Homo sapiens: one gene and its partners. The protein of the gene in region 1 purifies or fractionates together with the protein of each later gene. This does not show direct contact. Each region holds a gene or a part of one and is shown in the gene's direction. Other genes may lie near its edges.

What was found.
Region 2: the proteins of ODAPH (region 1) and KIAA0232 purify together in Homo sapiens (affinity purification with mass spectrometry; 2 studies listed by BioGRID and IntAct, with this or other methods). This does not show direct contact.
Region 3: the proteins of ODAPH (region 1) and AHCYL2 purify together in Homo sapiens (affinity purification with mass spectrometry; 2 studies listed by BioGRID and IntAct, with this or other methods). This does not show direct contact.
Region 4: the proteins of ODAPH (region 1) and PMVK purify together in Homo sapiens (affinity purification with mass spectrometry; 2 studies listed by BioGRID and IntAct, with this or other methods). This does not show direct contact.

The regions. Positions count from the first base shown.
Region 1 is NC_000004.12:75,558,437-75,563,114, forward strand, and holds part of ODAPH (odontogenesis associated phosphoprotein isoform 2 precursor), read left to right. Parts: intron 1-4,678. UniProt on the Homo sapiens protein: May promote nucleation of hydroxyapatite.
Region 2 is NC_000004.12:6,876,727-6,881,002, forward strand, and holds part of KIAA0232 (uncharacterized protein KIAA0232), read left to right. Parts: coding exon 1-31; intron 32-4,060; coding exon 4,061-4,240; 3' UTR 4,241-4,276.
Region 3 is NC_000007.14:129,403,030-129,407,305, forward strand, and holds part of AHCYL2 (adenosylhomocysteinase 3), read left to right. Parts: intron 1-349; coding exon 350-456; intron 457-2,067; coding exon 2,068-2,184; intron 2,185-2,806; coding exon 2,807-2,870; intron 2,871-3,348; coding exon 3,349-3,437; intron 3,438-4,276. UniProt on the Homo sapiens protein: May regulate the electrogenic sodium/bicarbonate cotransporter SLC4A4 activity and Mg(2+)-sensitivity. On the contrary of its homolog AHCYL1, does not regulate ITPR1 sensitivity to inositol 1,4,5-trisphosphate.
Region 4 is NC_000001.11:154,925,944-154,930,219, reverse strand, and holds part of PMVK (phosphomevalonate kinase), read left to right. Parts: intron 1-1,043; coding exon 1,044-1,196; intron 1,197-3,736; coding exon 3,737-3,866; intron 3,867-4,276. UniProt on the Homo sapiens protein: Catalyzes the reversible ATP-dependent phosphorylation of mevalonate 5-phosphate to produce mevalonate diphosphate and ADP, a key step in the mevalonic acid mediated biosynthesis of isopentenyl diphosphate and other polyisoprenoid metabolites.

The DNA.
Region 1 (4,678 bases):
ACTTCTCTTAAAATCAGTATAGTTCACTGCAAGCCAGCTTTGTCTGCCCAAATAACCACAGAGTATAGGTAATTATAAAAAAAAAAAAAGGTCTTTCATCATTACCTTTTTTTAAAAAAGTACTTGTTTTTAAAGTAGTTGTTGGTATGCTGTGAATTTCATGTCTAGACTATAATAAACCACCTTAAAACTGATATTCAAATTCCAAGCAATATTTTGCCTTGTTTTTTCTATTATACTCTAATTTTTTTGTTTGTTTGTTTGTATGTTTGTTTGAGACAGGGTCTCCCTCTGTCGCCCAGGCTGGAGTGTGCAGTGGCACTATCTCAGCTCACTGCAACCTCCGCCTCCTGGGTTCAGATGATTCTCCTGCCTCAGCCTCCAGAGTAGCTGGGATTACAAGTGTCTGCCACCATGCCCGGCTAATTTTTGTGTTTTTAGTAGAGACGAGGTTTCACCATGTTGGCCAGGCTGGTCTTGAACTCCTGAGCTTAAGTAATCTGCCTGGCTCAGCCTCCCAAAGTGCTGGGATTATAAGTGTAAGCCACCACGCCCAGCCAATTTTTAATATAATTTATTATTGCAGATTTTCTGCGACTGAAATTAAATACTCACTGAACTCCACAAAATATACAGAGAGGAACATTCAAGGTCGGCCTGACCATTTAACTCATCAAGTATTTACTGAGCACCACTATAAGCCAGGGACTATTCTAGGTGCTGGAGACACCGGCAGTGACCAAGAGTCAACAGTCCCTGTCATTGGCGAGGTCCTATTCTAGTAACGTGTGTCCCCAGTAGCCCTATCTTTAATGCACAAATTTTATGGGCCTAAGAAAATGGTGCTCAGGCTAACAGAATGTTTCCATAACATTCAAGATTAATAACCGTAGCTAACACTTATTAAGTGTGAACTGTATGTCCAGCAATGTTCTCAGCACTTTACACATTTTATTTCCGGTAACACTCACAAAGAGATGATGAGATGGGTAGTATTCTTTTCTTCATTTTACAAAGGAGGAAAATGAGACTCAAAGAGGTTAAGGAATCTATCTGTGTTCACCCAGTTATGAAATGGCAGAGCTCAGGAAGCCTGGCTCTAGAGCCTATCCTTTTAAACACTTTGCTATTCTGCCTCTCAAAATGTTTTTAATCTACATTTAAATATTTGACCTACTTTGGTCTTATTAAGCTTGCAGAAGAGCTCTCATCTTTGACATCCAGTGCCTTTGATAGCATGTCAGTATGTTACATACGGGGAAATATTTGCTTATTATTCAACACACTACTCCTGAGAAGTAGGAACTTGGTAACTTTGCAATTATAGAAACTGAGATTTCTCTCAATCAATTCAATTGTACTGGAGGCACCGTGCTAGGGATGAGGAGGCAGCAGTCTACAAGACGGTCACGTAGATCTTTCAGTGGAGCAGGCATATAGCCACTGAATAATAATCACACAGCTGATGAGTATGATGAAAGTGGACTCACAGGGTGCTAAGAAAGCATGTTGCAAAGGGTTTTAACCAAGCCTCTGGGTAGGAAAGGCCTCCCTGACAAAAAGAGAGAGAGAGAGAGACTTGAACAGGAGTTAGCCAGGCAAAGAGTGCTCTGGGCATCTGCAACCACCTTTTCAGAAGCCCAGGACAATTGATGACTTTTGCCAAAGTGGTTTTTGGAGAGGGAAGGAGGCAGGGTTAGATTCCAATGGATTAAATAGGGGGAGAAGTGGAATCAGTAGGTGTACAGACTTTAAAGAGAGAGGAGTAGGAACCAAAGAAGTTCATGGCAGATTACCTCAGCTTTCTCTCCGGAATATGAAGCTGATTAATCAACTTAGAAAGGTAGAGAGAGTTTCAAAGCAAATTCTTCAGATGAATGAAGAATGAAAATTTTGAGGGAAATTTGAGAAGATAGCAAAGGTTTAGAAGATAAGGAACAGAGAAGAACAAAGATAAAAGAATTAATGAGCAGTGTTAGATCAGCTGAAGTCACAGACCATAAATGGCATCAACCCACTTTCTCAGATGTGTGGCCCTAACTTTGTAAGATGTGACAGGTTCCCAAACCAATCACTATTGTTCCCACATTTTAGGACACTTGTGCTAGCTAACTAGCGACCCGATAGGATCACCATAGGTCTAGTTTGTTTGGAAGAATGTGGTTTTATGGGGTCCTGCCCACATTCCTGGGTAAGTGATTGAAGCAAGCTTATACCTTGATCTTGAACCCTTGAAAATTCCCAGAAAAAGAGAGCACTGAACACTACTGGACATCCCAGAGTCAGAGAAAACTTGCCTTGCAGGCTCTGAAACCCAATTGTTAGAGGAGGATTTAGAGAGTAGCTTCAGGTTTCTAGAAATGAAATGAGCACAAGAGGCGGGTGGGTGGGTGGTTTTTAACAGCTGGAGCACAGTTAACCTAGTGGCAGAGCTCAAGGCCTCGTTAAGCCTGAGCTGACAGCAAAATGTCAAGATGGGGCTTAAAAGAGAGGCTAGCTTGGCCGGGCGTGGTGGCCACGCCTGTAATCCCAGCACTTTGGGAGGCCGAGGCGGGCGGATCACGAGGTCAGGAGATCGAGACCAGCCTGGCTAACACGGTGAAACCTCGTCTCTACTAAAAGTATTTTAAAAAAAGAATTAGCCGGGCGTGGTGGCGCGCGCCTGTAGTCCCGGCTACTCGGGAGGCTGAGGCAGGAGAATGGCGTGAACCCGGGAGGCGGAGCTTGCAGTGAGCCGAGATCGCGCCACTGCACTCCAGCCTGGGCAACAGAGCGAAACTCAATCTCAAAAAAAAAAAAAAAAAAAAACGAGACTAGCTTCTCTCCTAGCGACTAGATTCTTGGCAGAATGTCTTCTTCCTGTAAGGTTCAGAACTTAGCAGGAAAAAAGCTACTAATGTGGGATTTGGTCGTTTTCTGCAGTTTAAAGTGTCTCAATCTAGTTTCAGTTTTAGAATTTCAATGTACCCTGAGTAGCTGTGGGAGAAGGGGTTGGTATTTTGTTCAAGGAACAGACACCCATTCAAGCTAGCTTTAGAAACAAGTAGAGCTGGAGGTAGATTGATTATTATAAGGATATCTCCAAGAAACTTAAGAATAGCTAGGGCTCCCTGAAAAGCCAAAAACTGGCCGGCCATGGTGGCTCACGCCTATAACACCAGCACTTTGAGAGGCCCAAGGCAAGTGGATCACTTGAGGTCAGGAGTTTGAGACCAGCCTGGCCAACATGGGGAAACCCCATCTCTACTAAAAATACAAAAATTAGCTAGGCGTGGTGGCGGGCACCTGTAATCCCAGCTACTCAAGAGGCTGAGGCAGGAGAATCACTTGAACCCAGGAGGTGGAGGCTGCAGTGAGCCGAGATCTCACCACTGCACTCAAGCCTGGGGAACAGATGGAGACTCCGTCGAAAAAAAAGAAACACACACACACCAAGGCTGCTGCTCCCAACATCACTCTGTTACCACAAGGCTCTGGTCTCTTCCTCTGTCCCGGAAGCCTTCCCTATTTTGCTGCTTCTATGTGCAGACTGGCTTCTCTGCATTCTCAACATTCCACAGGACAAAACCTGACACTCCAGCCCCTGCCCTACACCTTCCACTGACGTCTTCCACTGTGGCTCAATTCTTAAGTGAGAATCTGATTGGTCACTGACCAGACAGTGAATGAGTTGAGTGTCTATCAGTGGTCCAATCAGCCATAGCCAGAAGGTGCGTAGGACTGACAACTGACATTTCCAGGGTTCGTCGATGAAACAGAATATATGTATGAGGGACTGTGGACATAGGCAAGTAACAAGCGTATCCAATACAGCCAAGAAACCTGAATTCAACTGTCCCAAATGAGAGGGGAATCTAGTCCTTTATAAGTGCCTCAGCACTCTCAACTTCCTGTGGGAAGTTCTTTTTTTTTTTTTTTTTGAGACGGAGTTTTGCTCTCGTTGCCCAGGCTGGAGTGCAATGGCGCAATCTCGGCTCACCGCAACCTCCACCTCCCGGGTTCAAGCAATTCTCCTGCCTCAGCCTCCCGAGTAGCTGGGATTACAGGCATGCACCACCACGCCCGGCTAATTTTTGTATTTTTAGTAGAGACAGGGTTTCTCCATGTTGGTCAGGCTGGTCTCGAACTACTGACCTCAGGTGATCCGCCCACCTCGGCCTCCCAAAGTGCTGGGATTACAAGGGAAGTTCATTTTATCATCATTCACACTGGCAGCCCTTTCCAGGCTGTATATGTAAGCCTCTAAGGGAGTGAAGGAACAATTTTCTAAAGAAAAGATTACTTTTTTGTAGCCAATTTGATTCAATGACACAGCCAAGGAAGACTATGACACTTGGGTTTGATCCAAATTTCTTCTCAAAAAGTAATTGTATCCTGGTTCTCAGTGCTCTTTCTCCTGCTGCTTGTAGATGGTCCCTCCCTTCCCCTAGGAAATTATTTCACTGCTTGGGCAGTTGAAGCAGAACTTTTGAACAGTTATTTTTATTTTCTTAACATTAATTAAGTTCTTTTTTTCAGCTGAATTTTCTTTATTTAGTTATAATTTACATGCAATAAAATCCACACATCTTTTTTTTTTTTTTTTTTTTTTTTTTTTTTTTTTTTTGAGACAGAGTCTCGCTCTGTCAGCCAGGCTGGTGTGCAGTGGCACGATCTTCGGCTCACTGCAAGCTCTGCC
Region 2 (4,276 bases), about 69 Mb from region 1:
TAATGAAGAGCGCCTGTTAGATTTTAATAGGGTAAGTGGACTGTCCTCCTCCTCGTCATTAACTTACAAACAGCCACCACCTCCAGTTGTCACTGTAGTCAAAAACCTGGGAGTCATGTGAGTGGACCCCACCTCTCCCAGGAACCAGCCAGGCCTGTGGGTGCAGACTTCCTGTTCTCTGGCCTTTGTTCTGAGTCTGCATTCTCCCCCGCTTCCAAACCCCCTTGACTGTTGACTGCCAGTGCTTCCTGAAGAATCCCCAGCTCTCTCCCCAGTCTTGGCTCTACACTACTGCCCGAGGGCATTGCATTACAAATGCAGAGCTGACCCTGTTGCTCCTTGGGTGGGCACACTTTTCATCTTTTTTTTTTTTGTTTACCTAATAAGTGGGAGACCTAGCCTTGTCCTCTTTGAAAGTGCACCCTGAGGCAGCCTTGCCAGTGTGCTTGTTGCCGCTGTCCCGGCTTCTGCAGAACGATCCCGCCCTTTCCGTGTCCTCCTGCACTCTGTGCACGACTCTTCTTGCTGTAGCCAGAGCATGTACTTGCGTTCCGTTTCTGCATGTCTGCCTCTTCCACAAGCCTGTGGGCACCACGAAGGCGGGAGCGGGGCCTCCGCCTGGTTTAGTCTCGTCTTAGACCTTCCCCGGTTAAGAGGCAGGCAGGCAAATGAACCTAAGGAAAATTCTTTTTATTTGGTGTGAATTGTCAGTGTATTAGGGTTCTCCAGAGGGACAGAACTAATGGAATAGGTATATATATACACAAAGGGGAGTTTATTAAGTATTAACTCACACGATCACAAGGTCCCACAATAGGCCATCTGCAAGCTGAGGAGGAAGGAGAGCCAGTCCCAGTCCCAGTCCCAAAACTGAAGAACTTGGAGTCCGATGTTCGAGGGCAGGAAGCATCCAGCATGGGAGAAGATGTAGGCTGGGAGGCTAGGCCAGTCTAGTCTTTTCACATTTTTCTGCCTGCTTTATATTCTAGCCACGCTGGCAGCTGACTAGATGGTGCCCACCCAGATGAAGGGTGGGTCTGCCTTTCCCAGCCCACTGGATCAAATGTTAATCTCCTTTGGCAACACCCCCACAGACACACCCAGGATCAGTACTTTGCATCCTTTAATCCAATCAAGTTGACACTCAGTATTAACCATAACAAGTCCACCCCTTGTCAATTTGAACCCATACACATCTCCTGAAATTATATGTAATCTTCAAATAAAGACAATAAGGTCATAATTATACCTAACATAATACAGCTATGCTTCATACAACCGGAAAAGCACCAATCCCAAACCCAAGTACTATTACATAGAGTTAACAATACTTAAATGCTGATATGAAGTCAATAAATCTTATGTCAGCCGGGCGCTGTGGCTCACGCTTGTAATCCCATCATTTTGGAAGGCCAAGGTGGGCAGATCACCTGAGGTCAGGAGTTCAAGACCAGCCTGGCCAACATGGCGAAACCCCATCTCTACTAAAAATACAAAAATTAGCCGGGCGTGATGGTGCACCCCTGTAATCCCAGCTACTTGGGAGGCTGAAGCTGGAGAATTGCTTGAACCCAGGAGGTAGAGATTGCAGTGAGCTGAGATCGCACCACTGCACTCCAGCCTGGGTGACAGAGCAAAACTCCATCATTCATTCATACATACATACATACATACATACATACATACATAAATATATACATACATAAATCTTGTGTCACATGATAAAGGACAAAAAATAAAATGAGATTTTCTTAGTACAAGTGTATACATGCACAAACGTGTTTTTAACGAAGGAGGAAATACTCCTCAAGACAATTACAGTCCTGGTTTCTGCACCTGGTCACATGGTCGTAGCTGGTATTGATGACTACCTTCTTCTACTACCCATTCTGTATTCCCTTTGCCTTCAGCAAGCACCTCAGCAGGTTGTGGTTTTTTCCCGGTGGAGTGACCTAAACCTTCATTCCTAAAGAGTCTGAGCCATTTGTATCCTGTCTGGACTGGGCTGTTGTAGTTTCCCGTTAACTTGAATCACACGGCATGTGATCAAGTTGACACTCAGTATTAACCATCTGTCAGTGTCCATTCAAGTCCTGTGAGAACTGTCTGCCCAAGCACCTGTAGCATCATCGTCCACGTCCTGCTGCCCACTGACCTGTCCGGCTCCACACATGAAGGCAGATGTTTGAGGCCCCCACCAGCTCTCTCCTCAGTGACTAGTTCACATCATCCCTCCAGCCTCAAACCCCAAACTGAGACATATTCCCCAGTCCTCTCTCTCATCTTCCACACACAGTCTGCCTGCCAGTCCTGACCGTTCCCCGCTGTCAGCCACTTCGCATCTCCCACTTCTCCTCCTCTCCATCATTACCACTTTGTTCAAGCCACTGTCCCTGCTCCTGAACAGCTGCCATGGTCTTTTCATTGTCCTTCCTGCTTTCGTCATCCTTTCCAGCCTTCTCTCCACACAGCAGACAGAATGACCTCACGAGCAGTATCTTGTTCAGTCCTCACAACGACCCTGTGAGGTAGGTACTGTTGTCATGCCTGTTCTGCAAAATAGGAAAGTGAAGCACAAAAACATCAGGCGCCGTGTATCCGAGGCCAGAGAGCCACAGCTTCAGTGTGGACCTGAACTCTGAACCTCAGCAGTCTGCCTCTAGGACCCATACTGCTAACCATGATGTCACTTTGCTGTTGCATTTGAGACAGATCCAAACTCCCCGCCACGCCTCTACAGCCCTGTATGTTTTGCCCCCGTCTGCCTTTGACCTCATCTGTCTCTGCTCTCCCCTTACTCTGTGTGGCTTTTCTGTGCTTCTGCCTCAGGGGTTCTCAACCAGGGGCAATGCTGCCATTTGGAAATGAGGTGGGAGTGCTGCTAGTTACTATGGCAGGGTGAGGGGAGCTTTGTAATGACTGTGACTGAGGAGGGGCCACCACTGCATCTCATGTCCTGGGGTCCAGAGATGCTGACCATCTGGTGTAGGGGAGACAGTCCGACACCACAGAGTGTTGGCACCTCTGCATGGCTGGCTTCTCAGCTGAGCGGGCCTCTTCTCCAAAGAACTCCCTTCCCAACACACCCATCTGCAGTGCCCCCCCTCACCATCTGTACTGTGTCACTGCAAACTCCCTTCCCAACACACAGGTCTGCAGTGTCCCCTCACCATCTGTACTGTGTCACTGCAAACTCCCTTCCCAACACACCCGTCTGCAGTGCCCCCTCACCATCTGTACTGTGTCACTGCAAACTCCCTTCCCAACACACAGGTCTGTAGTGTCGCCTCACCATCTGTACTGTGTCACTGCAAACTCCCTTCCCAACACAGAGGTCTGCAGTGTCCCCTCACCATCTGTACTGTGTCACTGCAAACTCCCTTCCCAACACACAGGTCTGTAGTGTCGCCTCACCATCTGTACTGTGTCACTGCAAACTCCCTTCCCAACACAGAGGTCTGCAGTGTCCCCTCACCATCTGTACTGTGTCACTGCAAACTCCCTTCCCAACACAGAGGTCTGCAGTGTCCCCTCACCATCTGTACTGTGTCACTGCAAACTCCCTTCCCAACACACAGGTCTGTAGTGTCGCCTCACCATCTGTACTGTGTCACTGCAAACTCCCTTCCCAACACACCCGTCTGCAGTGCCCCCCTCACCATCGGTACTGTGTCACTGCAACTGGCACATGTTGGTTTGCTCGTTCATCTCCCCAGCGAGCCTGGCATGCGCCTTCCACTGCTGGAGTCCCTGTGCCCAGTAAAGTTCCTGGTGCATAGCAGGTACTCAAAGACTTTGAAAATGAAATAATTCTTTATCCTACCCTAACATGGCTAACATTTTGTCCAAGTGACTGAACATGTGGAATTAGGATTTTGGATCCTTCATGGATCAGAGAAGAGAGGCGGTTTTGCTCTGAAACAGTAAAACTCTGCATGTTTGTAACTCCACAGGAAAACACTGATGATTTATTATTTCTTCTTTGTATATAGATAGAGTATCTCACCCTTTTGGGGAAAAAAAAGTCTTTTTGATGTGTTGAAAATTGTTTTAATCTTAGGTGTCTTCTGTTTATGAAGCAAGATGTACAGGAGAGAGAGATTCTGGAGCAAAGTCAGATGGCTTCCGCGGAAAGATGTGCTCCAGCGCCAGCTCCACCTCGGAAGAGACAGGCTCAGAAGGCGGAGGCGAGTGGGTGGGCCCTAGTGAAGAGGAGCTCTTTTCTCGAACTCATCTCTAAACCTGCAAAATAGTACAAATTATTGTTTAAAAATGA
Region 3 (4,276 bases), on another chromosome or scaffold:
CCTATAGTAGATTCAAGATCTAGTGGCCTAGTAACTACAAGTTACCAATCCATAAGAAAATCCTCGGTTAGTTGCTGTATATTTTGATACAGTAGATATGTCACGGGGAGGGTCGTTTGGCTGCGCGAATTACAATTGGCCTTTCTCCTCTCATTGTCTTTTACTTCAATATAATGACTATTTGGCAGATTATTGTATTTACTCTGGCTTTAAGTTACTTTGCATAACCATATGGGAAATTTTAAATATCTGTAAATTGCTAATTAGATTGGGATGCAAGACCCAGAGAAGCACTGAAGCCTTGAGACTTCAGCAAAGTGAATGATGTTATTGATGCTTACTATTGCAGATCTTGGATGATGGAGGGGATCTTACCCACTGGATTTATAAAAAGTATCCCAACATGTTTAAGAAAATCAAGGGCATAGTAGAGGAGAGTGTTACTGGAGTTCACAGGTAAGATTTGACATGGGCATACCTGGTTTTATGCAGTCTAGACATAAAATCTTATAAACACATACCTATAAAACACATGTTAAAAATTGGAGCCTGGGCCAGGCGCGGTGGCTCACGCCTGTAATCCCAGCACTTTGGGAGGCTGAGGTGGGCGGATCACGAGGTCAGGAGATCAAGACCATCCTGGCTAACACGGTGAAACCCCGTCTCTACTAAAAATACAAAAAAATTAGCCTGGTGTGGTGGGCGCCTGTGGTCCCAGCTACTCGGGAGGCTGAGGGAGGAGAATGGCATGAACCCAGGAGGCGGAGCTTGCAGTGAGCAGAGATCATGCCACTGCACTCCAGCCTGGGTGACAGAGCGAGACTCCATCTCAAAAAAAAAAAAAAAAAAAAAAAAAAAAAAATTGGAGCCTGCTATGAGGTAACCACATCTCAGCTTGCTATGAGGTGACCAGATCTCAGCTTGCTATGAGGTGAGCAGATCTCTCTTGTTTTTTTTTTTTAATTAACAACACAAATAATGAACCTAAAATAGTGAGAAGGGGGCAGGTGGGAGAACAAGTGAAGTCCTCATGTTTTCTAGTGATTGTAAACAATTAACTTGTCCTTTTTGGACACATATATTCATTCATTCATTCAACAAATATTTATTGAACTTCTACAATGAATGAGGAACTGCTCTAGATGCTAGGAATCTAGCAGTAGACAAAACAGACAGAAAAAAACTCTGCCATCTTAGAGCTTACATTCTTACATGGAGAGCAAGGATGTAGGGTTCTGCTTCTCAAATGAGTAATAATTCTCTGAGTAAAATTGGAATTATTTCAGTTCAATTTCTGTGATCATTTCTATGATTTATTTCACCCATAAAGAACTAAAAGTATGAAAAAAAAAAGTTGTAGGGAAGTAAATTCTGAACCAGCCACCATCACTGCTTCAATACATTATCATCTTTTTGAATGTACAAAACTGAGGTCAGGAGTTCAAGACCAGCCTGGCCAACGTGGTGAAACCCCGTCTCTACTAAAAATACAAAAATTAGCTGAGTGTGGTGGCGGGCGCCTATAATCCCAGCTACTCAGGAGTCTGAAGCACAAAAATCGCTTGAACCCTGGAGGCAGAGGTTGCAGTAAGCTGAGATCACACCATTGCTCTCCAGCGGGGACAACAAGAGTGAGACTCCATCTCAAAACAAACAAACAAACAATAAAAGCACAAACAGCCAGGCGTAGTCTCATGCACTTGTAGTTCTGGCAGGCAGGGAGACCAGTGCAGATTTAGTGAACATTGTACCTAGTAGGTAATTTTTCAACCTTCAACCCGCTCCCACTCTCCCACTTTTTATAGTCTCCAGTGAAGGCCTTAAAATTTAGAGGTGGGTCAAGGATTTCCCCCACATGACTTTTGAATAAAATCTTTATTGTGAAGCTATATATGCAGGCTCTAGAAAGATATTCTTTATTTCTCAGTGGCCACCTAACAGGATGAAACTAGTCATGTCTCATGGTCTCATGCCTACCCAATCAACGTATTTCTGGGGCCTCCTATGAAAGCAATGGTAGATTGTAATGTCCTGGTGTTTTTTGTTCTTGGCTTCCCTCATCCTCAGGCTGTACCAACTGTCCAAAGCTGGGAAGCTGTGTGTTCCAGCCATGAATGTCAATGACTCAGTCACCAAACAGAAATTTGACAACCTCTACTGTTGCCGTGAATCAATTCTTGATGGGTAATGTTTATTATCTTTGAGATGAAGTTGTGATGTCCAGTTGAGATTCTAAGTTTTTTGGCTTTGGTTATTTCTGGAAAGGATTCATGTAGCACCTCTGGATAATGTCTCCATAAAGCCAGAGCTTTGTCACCTCATAAATTAAAATTACATTATTTTTATTTTCTCCTTTGTATCTTTTCTATTTCTAAATATTATATTTTCAAAATATTATCTAATAAATGTATGTTGCTTTTATGTTTAAAAGTTACTGTGTTATCTACATCTTCTTCCTTTCTGCACCACTTGCAAGAAAGGGGAAAAAAAAAGGAAAAAAACCCTTACATATAGGATTGGTTAGATGGCAGGGAGTGAGAAAATATGTATTTTATTTAACCTTCCTGTCTGGTCATTAGTTTCTCTAGGATAGAAACCAGACTTTCAGTGTTACAGGTCTTTTAGAATTTGTCTAGCAGGTTTTCTGGTCTTTACCAGAAAACCCCTTTAAAAAAATAAAGAAACCAGACTTTCTTTCAAAATGAAAAACCAACCAAAAAACCCCATGAAAACAAAGAGATTCAATCTAACCTCAAGGGAGAAACAAGAGAAGATTTTTCTGATTTAATGTTTTTTTTTCCCCTAGACTTAAAAGGACAACAGACATGATGTTTGGTGGAAAGCAAGTGGTAGTCTGTGGCTATGGAGAGGTGAAGTTTAACCTTTTGTTTATTAGGTGTTTTAAATGGATTTTGTTGAAATATTCTGGAATTTTTTATTTGTATGGACATATGAGTACACCCTTTACCACTTTAGATGAGAAAAAGAATTTCAGAGGCCTTCTGGTTGAAGTAGACTTTCTTTTTCCCTTTGCGTTGCCGCCATTTTCCCTTAAGTTGATTTTCTGACTTGCTCCAGTACCACCGTTTGTGATGTTCTTTTTAGCTTGTGTTTTAATTATGAATCGTGAGTGTGGGTGTTCTTGTGCACATGAATGCGATAAGCAGGAGCCAGGGGTTTGTTTATGAGCTGCATTCAATTATTTGTTCTTCTCGTTTTCCCCAAGTATGAATCTATTCAGTGAAATTCCTCTCGGGGGTGGAAAGAGGGGGTGCACTTTACCAGAAGCTTTGAGAAATGGTTTTCTCAGTGACTTTCCTTAATATGTGTGCTCTCTCCCCTCTTCAGGTGGGGAAAGGGTGCTGTGCTGCCCTGAAAGCCATGGGCTCCATTGTGTATGTAACTGAAATTGACCCCATCTGTGCCCTGCAAGCCTGGTAAGCCTCTACGCTACCATCTCACTTGCAATCTCGGAGCTGTCTCCAAAGAATGGCCTGGTTGATGCCACACTTTATTTTAGAGGAGCCCAGATCCTCAGAGATGCTGCCACTAACTCTAAGCATCTGTCTTTTAAAAAGGTCAAGGAGCTCTGCTTGGAGAGAGCAGAGACTATCAGAAAAGCGAAAATTTAGAAATCCTGTGGAGATAGTAACAGGGATTCTGTCAGCCAGAGAACAGGTAGCCCCTTACCTTCTCCATGTATGATACTTGCCTTTCAAATAATGATCAGAAAAGAAATTGGCAGGCATCAGATGCCTTCTGATGTGTTACACTGAAAATAGCCCTTCTGTGGTATTCCTCCCAAAAATGTATAACCTGAATCTAATTGTGAGGAAACATTAGACCAATCCCAGTTAAGGGTAAAATCTACTAACTCTGAGTGAAGCATATATGAGAATTATTTACACTAGTATTATAATTCTTAAGTTTGAAATGATTCTAAAATTAAAAGTTAAAACTTTTCTTATCTATAAAATGTGTGTAATCATACCTACCTCATAGGATTGTGAGAGTTCAGTAAAATAATAATTAGCATAGGCTGGGTGTAATGGGTTCATGCCTGTAATCCCAGCACTTTGGGAGGCTGAGGCAGGAGGATTGCTTGCGCCCAGGAGTTCGAGACCAGCCTTGGCAACATAGGGAGACCCCATCTCTACAAATAATTTTTTTAAATTAGCTGGGTGTGGTGGTGCATGCCTGTGGTCCCAGCTACTTGGGAGGCTGAAGTATGAGTATCACCTAAGCCTGGGAGGTGGAGGCTGCAGTGAGTTGTGAT
Region 4 (4,276 bases), on another chromosome or scaffold:
CCAAAGTGCTGGGATTACAGGCGTGAGCCACTGTGCCTGGCCAGTTTGCATTTTTAAAAGCTCCATGGAAGACTCTGATAGGCCAGACTGCCCTTGCTCTGTGCAAGTCCAGCACCACTCTATCCCCCACTCCCATTAAAAAACAAAACCAAAATGAAATGTTCATGCATTGATTTCCTAAGTCACAAGAAGAAATATAACCAACAAGTAGACCACAACGCTCCTGGAGGGAAACTGGTTCAGGAGCAGGAGGTGGCTACTGACCTCCTCTTGCAGCAAGGGGAGCAGGTGGGTGATCAAGAAATTGAGAGCCTGAGGGGAGAAGGTCTTGTTGCAGTGAGTTCATGGAGGAGCCAGAATCTGAACGAGGTGATGCTTTTCAGACCCCTCCTATCCTGGATCCCTTTGGATGGACCCCTCTGCTTGGAAAGGGGAGAAAGGAGTTCCCCAGGGTGGTCAGAGTAACCTCTCCTGCCTTGGGGGTCCTCTGGGTGTGGGAGGCCTTGCAAGTGCCCAGAGCCAGATGGAGTGATGCTGTTTCAGCAAAGGCGCCAGGAATTTGGGGATGGGAAGGGGTAAGGGGGAGAGAAAGGAGACACAATCTCCGTGGGATTTGGGATGGGGGCAAACAATGCTAGTGGGAGGACATGGAGTGCAGGATTTTTTTTCCCCCCTCAGATTTCCCACTTTAGTTGAAGGCTAAGCCTTTGCCCAGGGGATGCAAACTAATTTCAGTATTAGTTTAAGCCAGAAATAATTGGGAAGGTAAAACTTGCAAAAGAGAAACCACGCCACATATTTCAAAGACAAATTGAAACAATTTCTGGATTATCCCCAGACCTTTCTTCTGTCTACCAGTGATCGGGATTTCTTAGTTGCTGAGACTCTTGCCCTTGCAGACCTTTGTCCTGGCTGAAACCTCATTAATCCTTGCATCAGCCCTGGGGGAGGCAGGTGAGGGTGAGGGATGGCTCTTCCGCTGTTTTAGGAGAGACCACTGAGGTTGAAAGGCCGGTGACGTAGACATAATGTCCTTTGGGCAGGAGCATGGCTTGAACTTCCAGAGACTCCTGGACACCAGCACCTACAAGGAGGCCTTTCGGAAGGACATGATCCGCTGGGGAGAGGAGAAACGCCAGGCTGACCCAGGCTTCTTTTGCAGGAAGATTGTGGAGGGCATCTCCCAGCCCATCTGGGTAAGAGGGCTCCATGGCAGCATGAAGAACACCTGTTTCCCTAGCTCTTCGCTGTGTCCATCTCTCTCTGTCTCCACTGCCACCATCCTGGCCCAAGCCCCCACCATTTCTGGCCTGGACAGTCGCAGTAGCCTCCACACTGGTCTCTAGCTGTGGCTCTTGCCCTCTGTGGTCTATTCATTACACAGTAGCCAGACTGACCTTTTATTATTTATTTATTTATTTATTTATTTATTTATTTATTTATTTTTGAGATGGAGTCTCACACTTGTCGCCTGGGCTGGAGTGCAGTGGCGCAATCTTGGCTCACTGCAACCTCTGCCTCCTGGGTTTAAGTGATTCTTCTGCCTCAGCCTCCCAAGCAGCTGGGACTACAGGTGTCCACCACCACGCCTGGCTAATTTTTGTATTTTTAGTAGAGACGGGTTTTCACCATGTTGGCCAGGCTGGTCTCGAACTCCTGACCTCAGGTGATCCACCCACCTTGGCCTCCCAAAATAGTGGGATTACAGGTGTGAGCCACTGCATGCGGCCCAGACTGACCTTTTAAAAACGTGAACCAGGTGATGTCACTCTTCTGTTTAGAATACTTTGGTGGCTTCCCATTGTGCTCATGAACAAAATGAAAATCCTTCACATGAACTTCTGGGCCTTGTGTGATCCAGTTTCTGCTACTTTTTTAGCCTCCTTACTCCTTAAGCTGTAGCAACACTGGCCTTCTTGGTCCTCAAGTCAGTCGAACTCCTTCTGGAATCAGGGCCTTTGCACATGCCCTTCCACCTGTCTGGACTGCCCTTTCTTTCTCTTTCCCTGGTTAGCTTCAGCTCAGTTGACATGACACCTCCACAGGGAAGCCTTCCCTAATATTCAGGTCTTAACTGGTGCTCCCTGGCAGGTGCTCCTATAGCACCCTACCCCTTTTTTTCCTCATTCATTCTGGCAGTGAATATTGAGTGTCTACTTCTGCCAGGTGTGGTTGCATGTTGTGGGGATATATTGGTGCAAAAGCGCAATGAAATCTCTTCCTTCAGGGAGCTTACATTACAGCTGAGGGTGGCGGGGAGATAGGCACAGAATAAATACAGAATATATCAGGCAGTGGTAAATACTAAGGAGTAAAATAAAGTAGGCCTAGGATATGAGGAGAGATAGGGAAGCGTTGCTGTTTTATTAAGGGTGCCTGGGAAGGCTACACTGATATGATGATGTTTGAGCAAGACCTGAAGGAAATAAGGGATAACTGAATGGATATTTGGGGAAGTAGCTTTCCAGAGAGAGGGAGGAGGAAGTGCAGAGGCTTGAGTGGTGAGTGTGCCTGGTGTGTCTGAGGACAAGCCAGGTGGCCAGAGTGGTGGAAGGTCAGGTCAGACTTCCCAGGGCGGACCTTTGGGAGAGCTGGGATTTTATTCTGAGTGAGATGGGGAGTCACTACAGCGTTCTAAGCAGAGGAGAGACATGATCTGATTTCAGATTGAGAAGCCTGGCCATAGCTGCTGTGGGGAAGATGGGAGCAGAAGCACAGGGGCCGGGTGGAGGACTTTCCTGTGTTTTTTTTTTTTTTTTTTTTTTTTTTTTGAGACAGAGTCTCACTCTTGTCACCAAGGCTGGAGTGCGGTGGCGCGATCTCAGCTCACTCTACCCTCTGCCTTGTGGGTTTAAGCGATTCTTGTGCATCAGCCTCCCGAGTAGCTGGGATTACAGGCATGTGCCATCATGCCCAACTAATTTTTTTTGTATTTTTAGTCGAGACGGTGTTTTACCATTTGGCAAAATTTGAACTCCTGACCTCAAGTGAACCACCCACCTCGGCCTCCCAAAATGCTGGGATTACAGGCATGAGCCACCATGCCTGGCCAGGACCTTTCTGTAACAGACAAAATGACTATGGTTGGGGCGCAGAGGGGAGCAAACGTAGAGTGGAGAGAAGGGGTCAATTTTGCGTGTATTTTGAAGAGAAAACCAACAGGATTTGCCCTTGGGTTGGCTGTGGGGTGTGAGAGACTATACCAAGGATTTTGTTCTGAGCAGGTGGACAAATATAGAATTATCATTTTCTAAGACAGGGAAGGTGGGGAGGAACAGGATTGGAGAGGAAATCAGGAGTTGAGTTTCAGCCGTGTTGAGGTTGAGACACTTGTTGACATACACTGTAATCACATGGTTATTTGATTACTGAATACTTGTTCAGTGTCTCCCACTAGACTGTAAGCTCTGAGAGGGCAGGCACAGGGTCTGTTTTGCTTACCAGTCTAGCCTTAGCACCTAGCACAGTGACCAGCGTACAGTAGGTACTTACTATAATACTTGTTTAATTGGATTAATGAACTTGTCAGCAGCACTGCCTGACATGTAGTCAGCACTCAGTGGTGTATGTTCAATGAATGAATGAATCCGTGAATAGTGAGTCTAGCTGCTGACATGCTCACGATGATGGGGGGGTAGAGCCACACCCCACACTGCCCTGGGTTCTGTAGTCCTCCCACCTCCCCTCACTTCTATCATCCTGTCCTGTTGGTCACCTGTCTGTCCCTCTCCTGCAGCTGGTGAGTGACACACGGAGAGTGTCTGACATCCAGTGGTTTCGGGAGGCCTATGGGGCCGTGACGCAGACGGTCCGCGTTGTAGCGTTGGAGCAGAGCCGACAGCAGCGGGGCTGGGTGTTCACGCCAGGTGAGCCACTCTATGTGTAGGGCACAGGAGGACACAGGCTACCCACCCTGTGGTTTGTCTACCGGGCAGGCCTGGGGGAAGTGAATAAGGGATGATAAAGGAGAATCTGAGGCCTCCTGATTAGGGAGTAGCATGGTGGACAGAATCCTGAGGGTCAAGGTTCCCTTGGCTTAACCTAGGCTATCTTCTCATGGCCAGTGGGCTGCTTTGGTGGTCTGGCTGGGACCCACCCCCATGATTCTTCACCTTTGCTTTCCAGCCCAGTAGGGGCTGACAGTGGTCAGGGGCAAACCTGACAAAGCTCACTTCTGTTTAACACAGTAGTGGAGTTAGAAGTTAGTAGTGGAGAGGAAGTTCTGCTGGGAGCTTCAGTGGTGCAAGCCCAGGACCCGCTCTGTGGGCTTCAGAAG